3 linked regions of the Homo sapiens genome follow. The protein of the gene in region 2 purifies or fractionates together with the protein of the main gene of each other region. This does not show direct contact. Each region holds a gene or a part of one and is shown on either strand. Other genes may lie near its edges.

Region 1 (3,655 bases), on a different chromosome or scaffold from region 2:
CCTGATTTCAGCATTTACTACAAAGCCCCAGTAATCAATACACTGTGGTACTGGCATAAAGGAGGACATAGAAATTAATGAAATATAATAACCCAGAAAGAAATGCTTGCATATATGGCCAAATGATTTTCATCGAGTGTGCCAAGATCGTTCAATGGGGAAGGGACCGTTTTCTCACCAAATGATATTGGGAAAGGTGGATATCCAAGGGCAAGAACAGTGGAACCTTTACCTAACACCATGTACAAAAAGTAACCCACAATAGATCAAAGATCTAAATGTAAGGGCAAAAACTATTCAACTCTTAGAAGAAAAGCTTCATGATACTGGATTTCACAATGATTTCCTGGTTGTAACAACAAAAGCATAGGCAACAAATAAAATGGATAAATCGGACTTCATAAAAATCAAAACCTTTTATATATCAAAGAACACTATCAAGAAAGTAAAAAGCAACCCACGAAATGATAAAAATATTTGCAAATTATATGTGTGATAAGAAATTAATTTCCAGAATACATGAAAAGCTACAAGTCAACAACAGCAAACATCCAAAAACCCAATTAAAAAATGAACAAAGGATTAAAATGGAGTTTTCTCCAAGGAAGATATACAAATATCAAATAAGCCCATGCAAAGTTCCTCAGCATCAGGAATACTTGGAGATATGCAAATCAAAACCACATTGTTACACCACCTCACACACTTTAGGATGGTTTTGATAAACAACAACAATGACAGCAACACAAAACAACAGGTGTTTTCAAGTAGATGGAAAAATTGGAGCTCTAGTGCATTGCTGATGGGAATGGGAAATGTTATAGCCACTGTAAGAAGTGGTGTGGCTCTCTCTCAAAAAATTAAACAATAAATTACCATTTGATCCAGCAATTCCACTTCTGGACATAATCCCCATAGAATTGAAAGAAATTTGAACAAATATTTGTAAACTGATGTTCAGAGAAGCATTACTCACACTAGCCAAAAAATGGAAACAACTGAAAAGTCCATTGAAAGATAAGTGGGTAGGCAAATGAGGTGTATCTATACATTGAAATGTTGTTCAACCTTAACAAGGAATAAAATTCCAATACATAGTGCAAAGTGGATGAACCTTGAAGATATTATGCTAACTGAAATAAGCCAGACACAAAAGGATAATTATTATATAATTCCATTTATAAAAGATAGTTAGAATAGCCAGTTACATAGAGACAGAAAGTAGAATGGTGGGTGCTAAGGTTTAGGGGGAGAAGGAGTGAGAGTTACTGTTTATTGGCTACAGAGGTTTAATATGGTAAGAGGAAAAAGTTCTGGAAATGGATAGTGTGATGGTTACACAACACTAAATTGCACACTTAGAAATAGTTAATGGTAAGTCTTATATTAGATATATATAAAGTGTCCAGTAGTCTTACCCTCTCTATAATTACACACTTTTTGGCACTGCCCCTTTCCTGCCATGCAGAGCCCTAGGGGTGAATCTCCCTATTTCTCCAGCTCTGCATCAGTCACTGTCCTCCGTGCTGTGTCCCAGGTGCTGTGCCCACAGCCTCATACAGCCGGTGACTTCAGAGCCAGGACACAGCTCAGGAGTCTGCCCTGAGGCTCCCTCTCTTTTTGTTTCCCTGCAGCCTGGCCCGGGGGAGGCTTGGCTTCAACTGGCAACTCGATTTAGCCAAATTCAGGACAGGCCACCAGGGCTCTTTCTCCACAGATGCTGGTCCCACCCAGGTGGAGTCAGGCAGGGCCAGTCACCAGAGGAGCCTGGAGCAGAGCAGGAAGCAGAGTCTGAGCTGCTCCTCCCTCACCCAAGGGGCTTCCTCCTCTCATCTGGGGGAAAAGTGTCAGCTTGTTTCAAAGCCTCGGATGTTCCTTGTAGCTCATAGAATAGGTACAAGAAAACAAAGACGTGGCAGAAGGGGATGTGTTGGTGACAGCAAGAAGCAACTTGATCTTGAGGACTCTCCTTCTTGTCCCTCTCTGAATCCTCTTCTACCACATAGGGCTCAGGGCTGATAAAGCCCGCTCCGTACCTTTCTCAGGCCAGACACAAGGTCAGCCATGAGAAAACAGAAAAACAAGGAGAAGAGAGTCTGTAGAGACAAATTGGGAGGGTTCAGGAGGAGAATTTGGGATTTGCTTGTGCCCATGGGACACAGGCTGGGAATAAAAATGTTTTCCTGACTCTTCTCTGAAAGCCAGAGAGACTCCACCTAAAACTCTATTGCCAAGCATGCTGGGATCCACTTACCAGAGACTTTGACTGTCATGGATTTGGAGCTTTCCATGCCAGTGGCTGAGTTACGAACAGAGCAAGCATAGAGCCCGCTATGCTTTGTAGTAATCTGGGGGATAAAGAGCTTTTGTCCTGATAGCTGAAACTTCCCATTAATTGTCCAAGAATATTCTGCTGGTGGGTTAGAGTCCGCGAAGCAGGACAAGTAGAGGTTTTCTCCTGAATGGTAATAGGTGAATGAAGGGTAAATTCTGGGGAGGTCTGGACCATCTGGAGCAAAGAGAATAAAGCCACAGGTGATGTCATCCGAGGGAAGGGGATGCTCCTGGTCTCTTAAAGGGACACAGTGACCCTCTGAGCCAAGACACACCCTCAAGTGCCAGCCAAACCCCCTCTATGTTCACTGAGCTGAAGCCTGAGGTATTCCCCTGTTTCTCCCATCACAAGCTGTGGGCCCCAAGTCTCCCATGACAAGAGCGTCCCCTCCCCTTATATTCTTGGTTAAGGCTGTGCCTACCCAGATCTTCCCAGGGCAGGAAGTTATGGCCAGCTCGGATGTCCAGAAGTAATGGTATCTATACTTGGACCAGAGAGAGAGTGAGAGGCCTGGCCTCTGGTCGTTTTGATTTAAGCTGGTGTCCTGGCCCACAGAGGAACAAAAGATACTCACAGAGGACATTCAGGGTGACTGGGTAACTGCGGATGCCACCATATCGGTCCTGTATTTCACATTGATAGGGTCCTGTTTCATTTCTCGTGACACTGGGTAGAATGAGGATCCTGTTTTCAATGGGTCGCTTTACCCTGGGACTGACCGGGAGGCTCTGACCATTTAGCCACCAAATGTAGGTGTAGTTCTCACTCTTAGGTTCACAGGTGAAGGCTAAGACATCCTTATTCTCCCTGGGGTTTAAGTTGTTGATGGTGATGTAGGGCTTGGGCAGCTTCGCTGTGTGGATAACAGAGAGAAGATTGTCCTGTGTGGCACCTTTGATTCCTCCACTGGCATCCTTCAATCAGAGTTGGCATCTCCCACCTCTCAGCCCACCCGAGTCCTTGAAAGCCAATAGCTGGTGCGTGTGTCACAAGACAGATGCATGATGATCTAAGGGCTCAAAGACTGTGAGGCCAGCTGCTCTGTCTTAGGGAAGCACAGACTTTCTCAAGTGTCAATTGAGCAGCAGTGTTGGGTCATGGACAGACACGTCAATGGGAGTCACAGCCCCTGGTACCCCTCCCAGTCCCTCCATAATCAGTTGACTGGCTGGCTCACCCTGGGTTCCTTACCTGGAATGTGCAACTGGTGGGCCCCTTCCAAATTCCATCCTACTTTGCCCCCATAGATGTGATTTCTCTGCAACTTCCATTTCCAAGGACATTCTAGAGATGAGTAATAATGGGACTTCCCATGGCCCT
Region 2 (4,131 bases):
AGGCGTGAGCCACCGTGCCTGGCCCAGAAAGTTATCTTTTTCAAATTAATCTTATAAAAAAAAATTTATATAATAAAAGCCTGATACTTTGAAATTATAAATGTTTTTCTTTTGTATTCTGAGGGAATAAAAATATTGAAAATAAGCTTTATAATCAAGCCATTAAGATATTACCTTTAAAATATATCAATATATTTTATTGGTTTATTAAAAATTATGTCAACATATAATGCTCTCAGTAATTTAGCCAAGGTCAGACTACCTCAGTAACCTTAGAATTTCCTGATTTTGTTCCTTTTTGAAAGTAGATGAGGCCGGGCACGGTGGCTCACGCCTGTAATCCCAGCACTTTGGGAGGCCGAGGCTGGCGGATCACGAGGTCAGGAGATCGAGACCATCCTGGCTAACACGGTGAAACCCCGTCTCTACTAAAAATACAAAAAAATTAGCCGGCCGTGGTGGCGGGCGCCTGTAGTCCCAGCTACACCGGAGGCTGAGGCAGGAGAATGGCGCGAACCCGGGAGGCGGAGCTTGCAGTGAGCCGAGATCGCGCCACTGTACTCCAGCCTGGGCGACAGAGCGAGAGTCTGTTTCAAAAAAAAAAAAAAAAAAAAAAACAAAGTAGATGAAAAAGGAATTATTTTATGTTTCATGTTTCAGAATGATGTAAATTTATGTTGCTTGATTTGTGGAAGTCATAATCTAAAAAAAACAGCTTTCATATTTTTCAATTTGATATAGATTTTATAGTACTTTGGTGGAAATTACTCTGGAATTAATATTCTCTTTCTGTCACTGGAATTAATCTAACACTACTTTGAAATCGAGTATGATTCTACTACTTTGAAATACGTGTGTTTTAAAAACATTTTTGTAATTTTGTATGATATTTAGTATCTCATTTGTCTTTAACCTGGTTTTGTATACAAAGTAGCTGTTTATATATAAATGCTTAGCATTCTCCCAAAATTTAGCATGCAAAGATACTTGTAGATCCTTAGTAAAATGCATCTTTCCAGGTCCCATTATCTGATACTCTTATTGAAGCTTGGATGAGGTCTTTACTATATTTTTAATAAGTGAGTTAGGTGACTCTGGTGTAAATGATCCATAAACTACATGCTGGGAAAACGGTTTTATTTTGATTATCTATTTTTATAGAGTTTTACCTACTGTGTAACTGACTAGAGTATGGGAACTTAACATTTATACGTATCTGTTTAATGCAGTCTGATACCACAGACTTGAGCTGTCCAGTATGGCAGCCATCAGACATGTGTGGTTATTTAAATTAGATTTTAAATTTAAATTTAAGCCCTAAACAGTGTTTCATTGATGATTAATAGTTACTAATATATAAGAAAAGGTAACATCATTAATGTAAAAAGAAATCTGAAGTAATGGTTAATGAGAAACTATAAAGAAGTGTGATCGTGATTAATGATACTTACTGTGAAACACGCTGCAAGAGCCCAAAGGCCCAAGATCCAAGTCAGTGATTTCATCCTTTCAGTTGCCTCTGAAAGTAAGCACAATAGGTGATCAGTATGATTGTTTTTTATTAAAAAGTACTATTTAAAATGTCTCAACACTTGGATATAATGTAATACAAATATCCTACTATAGCATTTTTAGGGAATTTGCCTAATGTTATTTTGAATTCAGTATTACTGTGGGGCAATATTAGTAGGCTTATAAAATTTGACTTCAAAATAGTGGAAGTAGTTTTTATTTTTGACTTGTAAACTGATCCTGGGGATAATGCCAAAGAGTTGTTCATACATTGCTCTGAGCAATAGAAGCTTTTATGACTAAGGTTTTTCCCTTAGAAGTAACTACTTTAAAATGTATACTTATTTTCATTTGAACATTTTGATATTTTAAAAATAGTAGATACATTATAGATTTCTATGGATGGGTTTGAGATATTAACATTTTAACTAGATCTTATGTTACAAATTTTATTGCTTGGAAGAGCTTAAAAATAAGGAAAAAAAAAAGGAATCACCCTGTTGGATATAGTCTAAAAGAAGAGTCACATAATATATTTCCTAGTTTTAACAACATTCTATTACATTAATTTAGGCTGTGATGAGTGGTCTCAAAGTGCTTCCAAAAATCCATATATCAGAGACCAAGGCAAGAACATGGAGATGTCCAGGTATTCTACTCTCAATTGGGTCAAATTTTACAATATATTTCAAGTACATGATAGCTTGATTTTTGGGAAAGCAACTCCATACACCATGGTGCAAATTGGCTTCCTGTTAGTCAACTCTGCACATAGGTTGAGTGTGTGGTCTGAGCAATGCAAGTCTTGAAAGAATCCTATGGACAAAATTTCACTGGATATTCAATTATATATATGTGGGTGTGGCTATTCCTTTAACTAGTACTTTTCCTATATCCATTCTTAAATTAAGTTTGAAAAACAAAAGAAAAACCAATAATAAAAATATTCTGTAGAGCAATTCTGTCTTTTAGAGTACACCTGAGACTATTCTATCCTTATGAAGTTTCAAGAACTTTAAGGTACATCAGGAGGAAAAGTCAATTGTGTACTTGGATGGACCGATTGGCCCAAATGCCCAACATGAATGTTTTACTCTGACCTGTAAAAACCAGAATTTTTCAAAATTTATTGCATTTAATGACTTACAATTTCATGTAAGCTACTTATGTTTTTGCTGATAATGAATGTTCTATGAAAAGCCCATAAAATGTTATCGTTGAAAATGTTATCTTTGAGAAAAATTTCAATATTCAAAGTAAAAATATTCAGTTTATATTTCCAAGTACCTACCTTTGTGTGAGGATCTGTCTTACAGTTGATTAATCTGCTGGTCAAAATGACTCTTGCCAGTTGAAAGACGGCAAATAAAGGTGAAAAGGGACAAGAAATCTTAGCTCTTATATATTGTAATGGATTTCTGTTGGCAATAAGAGAAAGGCTATTCGGAAATAAAATAACTTCCGAGTTGATGCTCTTCAAAGATAGGAAAGTTGTTCTTGCCAATTTGGCAGTCTTTTTCTGGATTTTTTTTCATTCCTGAAAAGCATTGACCTGTTCAACATTTGCTGTTTCCTGAGGAAACAGATACAACAAATCATAATATCCTATCACCTCAGAAAAACAATCTGGGGCCTGTGGTGCACCATTTCCTCTTTATTTCAAAGGAAAAGCTGGCACGAGTTTTTTCTGTTCCAAGTGATTTAATGGGCCATCTTTTGTTATTTGCTAGTCTCATCATATTTTCTATTTTATTTCAAAGGCCTCCATATGTGCGAAATACAAATATTTTTAAACTGAATTCTAACATGATCAGGAGAACCTAGGGGAACAAAAATGATAATTAAAATTAAAAGTGCCTAATTAAATAAATATTGCTAAATACCACACACACACACATGCACGCAGGTACGATGCATGGCCAGTAATGTAAAGAATATCTAAAATTTCACTTGACTGTTTTGATCACTTTGCTATATGTTGTGGGTTTCATGTTTCTATTTTTTGGTTGAAATAATGAAATTGTATTATTGTTTTGTGCTTGAAAGTTTGTATATATCTTATCCTATGTATGGTTTTTCACAGTTGTCTTCATTGAGTAGATGTTTCTGAAGGATGATGAAAATGAGTGCTGCTATTAAGATTTGGATCTAAGTTTCAAAAAAGCAGGAAAGAAAAATCTAGTGGTGGAAGAGGGATAATAGTCAGAAGGTTCATGCAGTTTCTCAGTCTTAACTATATTTCATTTCTTTGTGATTATCTTAAGTTAGTAGACTATTTACAAGACCTTATATATGCATTTTTTAGGAAGTTCCTTTTGCCAGTGAAGAACTAAATGAGAACAACTGTGTTTTAAAAATCATGTGGTCCTTGCCATTATTAACTTGAGACATTTAATTAAATAAAAATATAATGACAAGCAAAATTTTTGATTATGGCAAAATTATACGGATATCTTGACTTTGAAGTGGATGTCTAATGGAAAATTACAGCCTTGTTTTTTTGATAAATCTAGGCTTTGAGCATAATTTTTCCTAAGCTAGATGATCCTATAATCTGTAGTTTTGACACATTATTATTTAATAATAACAGCTATTACTTATTAAACCTTTAGCATATTC
Region 3 (3,415 bases), on a different chromosome or scaffold from region 2:
TTGTGTAGTTGGGCCCCTCCAGGGTTGAAGGCAAGAGGAGAAAGGCACAGCGTTTGGGAAACAAGACTTTTCCTGCAATAGCCTGGGAAGGAATAAAAGGATAGAGTGTTTGGGTTTTTGTGTAATGGTGGTTAATTGGGGTGGAACACTCACACGTTGTGCTTTTTCTGGGCTTCCCTTATCCCCCAGAACACTCTACCAACCTCGGGGAACTCGGGCACATCCTTCTGTTTCTCCTTCAGCTCTATCCTGCTTTCCTCATCCCTTCTGACACCACGTCCTCACTCACCTGCACAAGAATCCCTGCATCAGGTTCTCCTTTGAGGGTACCCACCCAGGACAGTCCCCTACCACTTCTGTCTTGGGCTGAAGTTGCCCACGTCCACAAAATCTGTACTCCCAGCGGGGGTGTTTGGCCCGAGGAGTCAGTGTTATTACTGGTGGATGCACCGTGTCCACAGCAGCCCCCAATCCCAGCGATGCGTCAGATCTTACGTGGCTTCCTGCTGGGGGAGATGGCCTTCACCCACGGGATGCCGGGTTCTCCTTTCTTTCCTCACCCCAACCTTTACTCCACCAGAGAAACTTCCTTTTGAACTCAGTGGGGAAGAGGGTGATGAGACAGGACTAGAAAGTAGTGGGGGACCCAGCGAGTGGACGCCCTGCTCCGGGATTCCTGAGTCTGTAAATAGTGTGCCCAGCAGCTGTGAACTCCCCTTATAGCCTCAGGCTGCAGTGTCCTTCCCAGCTGTGTGAGAAAATGAAAGCCGACGTCCACAGGGACCCAGGCAGGGTTGGGTGTTGTGACTCACTCCACCTCTGTGCCCTGCAGAGGTACTGTTGGGTCCTTGTCTTGTGAGCCTGGGGTGAGCTCTCTGTACATGTTGTTGTTCCACGTATGGGTTGACTTGGCATGCTGGGGGGTCCTCGTTCACTCTCTGAAGTTGGCCTCCTTTCACTGGGGATTGAAAAGCACCTCCACCCCTACCCTAGTGATGTCCCCTGAGGACCCGGGTGATAGTACAGTCAATATTGTCAGTACTTTGCTTTGATTGAAGGCTGTAGAGCTGAGTTACCAAAATTTCTATTTCAAAGGAAACCAAACCTTAAAAAAAAAAAACAAAAACTGGGCTGGGTCTTCCAAACCTACCATGAAACCCTGGTGTGCAGGCTGCACTCAATGACCTCAACCCAACACCTCCCTGAGTGTGCTTCTTGGAAGAGCCTAGAAGATTCCTGGATGGAGACCCCATTGGTTCAGCCTCAAGTCTGGCCCGTCTTCGAAAAAACAAACACATTTGTAAGCTTTGTGGGAGCTTCCAGGCCTGCTCTAAGATGCCTTGCTTGTCCTTTGACCCATCAGCATGGAGCTCAGTGGTTGCTGTTTGGTTCTGCAGGCTGGTGGGGAGGCCGCCCATCGTGGTGGGGCATCTGTCCAGCCCCATTGCCACTCAGGGCATCCAAACAGGAGGCACCCGCTGGGAAGGGTCTAAAGATACTCCTTGTGGCCACTGCTACTGTTCACACTTGACTTGTGGAGAAGCGAAGGGCTGAGGGGAGGTTTGTGTACACCCATGTATTTAAAAGTGACTGACTGACTGAAATGAGCACATACCGACATATGCAACATACTAATACCTTCCTGATTTTCGAGACTTTCTAATTACTACAACTAACCTGTTGTGCTCACCTCTGGAATTCAGAAAGAGAGCCACTGCGAGCACTGACCACAAGGGCTGCCTTAGGAAGGAAATGTGTGCTTTCAGGAGTTCTTATTAGGGGAATTTTAAGAGCACAAAAATTTTATTGAACCCACCTTAGTGACAAACAGAAAATGATTTGTTAGATTGTCAGTTGGAAGGGGTTTATTATGACTGCTGGTGAAATAAACAGTGACCAGTTTCTGCCAACATTTATGGAAATAACGTTTCTAGGTTTTAAATGTGAGCCGTAAACTGAAGCTACTTCAGTTAAAAAAAAAAAAATCAATACTTAAACTGTAGGGAAAAGGTGGATTGGTGCCAGAGAAAACATTATTTAATAGTGTCAGAACATGGAACTGCAACACAGTTTGTAGCAAGGCACTGAGAAAAACCCACAACTAATCCTTCATCGCAGCTGTCTGAACTCTTGATCATCTGCCATCCCCCAAACAGTGACTTCTTTTTTTCTGGTGACTCCAGGCCTGAATGACCTAGTGTGGAGAGTTTAAACTATGTACAAGGGAGGAAAGAAAAAAAGGAAAGGAACCTTAAGTAAGCCTCAGCCAAAGGTTTTATGCATTGGACTTCCTGTGCCTGCCCCCAGGGGCAAGACTGATCCCCATGCCTGTGCCCATGACATCTCCCTGAAAGAGGACACCATGACAGCCCGGCTTTGCCTTGACTGACCCACTGCTACCCCAGAAATAAGAATCAAGAGCAGCTATTGTTATCCTTAGAGTGTTTTCCGTCTAGGGCCGGCTCGTGAACAGCCACATATCCTTGCACCTGACACTGTCCCCACACAAATAGCTGGCTTTCGTTGCTTGTTGAATGAATGAGTGAGTTGGCTCTATATCCCCTTGGAGCTGGCCGGTAAGATATTAGTGCCTCATTTTACAAGAAGAGAATAGGAAGGAATTAAGCAATTTGGCCAACAGATACAAGATAGATTCCAGAGTTTTATCTCCCACTTTAGGGTGGCAGCCAGTAGGCCAAACTCCAAAGACCGTTGCTGATGTCTTTTTCTGCCTCCCCTCTTTGGGTTAGTGTGGTATGTACAAGCTCACTCTTGTTGAAAATTAGAAAATAGTTGAAAACAAAAGGTTTTTGTTTTTCTTTTTAAATCACATTAAATGTTTTACATTGCTTATTCTCTATTTTCTATTCTATCCACTGGACAGGGATGTCTTCACCACATTCTAGAAGCTATGTTGTAATGAGCTCTGTTTTCTCAGGTCTGTGAAATTTCTGACATTCATCTAACAAAGTAGAAACTTCAAGCCAGGGACTCCTGGATCTCATGCAAGAGGAGTGGTCCTTGCTCTCCATGAGCCAAGAGCTGGCTGAGGTCCTGTCAGGCAGTAGAGGCTCATGCCTCTCCCCCGGAAGATTGTCTTTCAGAGGAGATCTGGAATCCCACTAGGAAAAACATTTGGAATCTGTTTCAAACAGGGACACAAAGCATCTTCAGGCATGACTGTCAACAGCAACTATGCTCCATGCATGCCACTAAAGGGCAGGCAGGAGAAAGAAGAGTAGAAGGAAGCAGGTGGAAAGAGTGAGGAACCAGCCAGCACAAAAAGAAGTCCACGTTATGGAGAGTTGAAACAGCTGTCTGAAGAAGAGGTGGAGGACATGGAGGTCAGCCCAAGAATTCCAGAGGTTATGGTGAAAAAATCTGGACTGAGGAGAGGAGGTGTAGGGAGTAAGAG

Evidence for each region.
Region 1: the proteins of SMR3B (region 2) and PSG3 purify together in Homo sapiens (co-immunoprecipitation; one large-scale study listed by IntAct). This does not show direct contact.
Region 3: the proteins of SMR3B (region 2) and CRTAP purify together in Homo sapiens (affinity purification with mass spectrometry; one large-scale study listed by BioGRID and IntAct). This does not show direct contact.

What each region holds. Positions count from the first base shown.
Region 1 is NC_000019.10:42,726,869-42,730,523, forward strand, and holds part of PSG3 (pregnancy-specific beta-1-glycoprotein 3 precursor), read right to left. Parts: intron 3,189-3,655; coding exon 2,910-3,188; intron 2,510-2,909; coding exon 2,255-2,509; intron 1-2,254.
Region 2 is NC_000004.12:70,381,885-70,386,015, reverse strand, and holds the start of SMR3B (submaxillary gland androgen-regulated protein 3B precursor), read right to left. Parts: upstream 2,886-4,131; 5' UTR 2,804-2,885; intron 1,520-2,803; 5' UTR 1,506-1,519; coding exon 1,452-1,505; intron 1-1,451.
Region 3 is NC_000003.12:33,144,921-33,148,335, forward strand, and holds the end of CRTAP (cartilage-associated protein isoform 1 precursor), read left to right. Parts: 3' UTR 1-2,853; downstream 2,854-3,415. UniProt on the Homo sapiens protein: Necessary for efficient 3-hydroxylation of fibrillar collagen prolyl residues.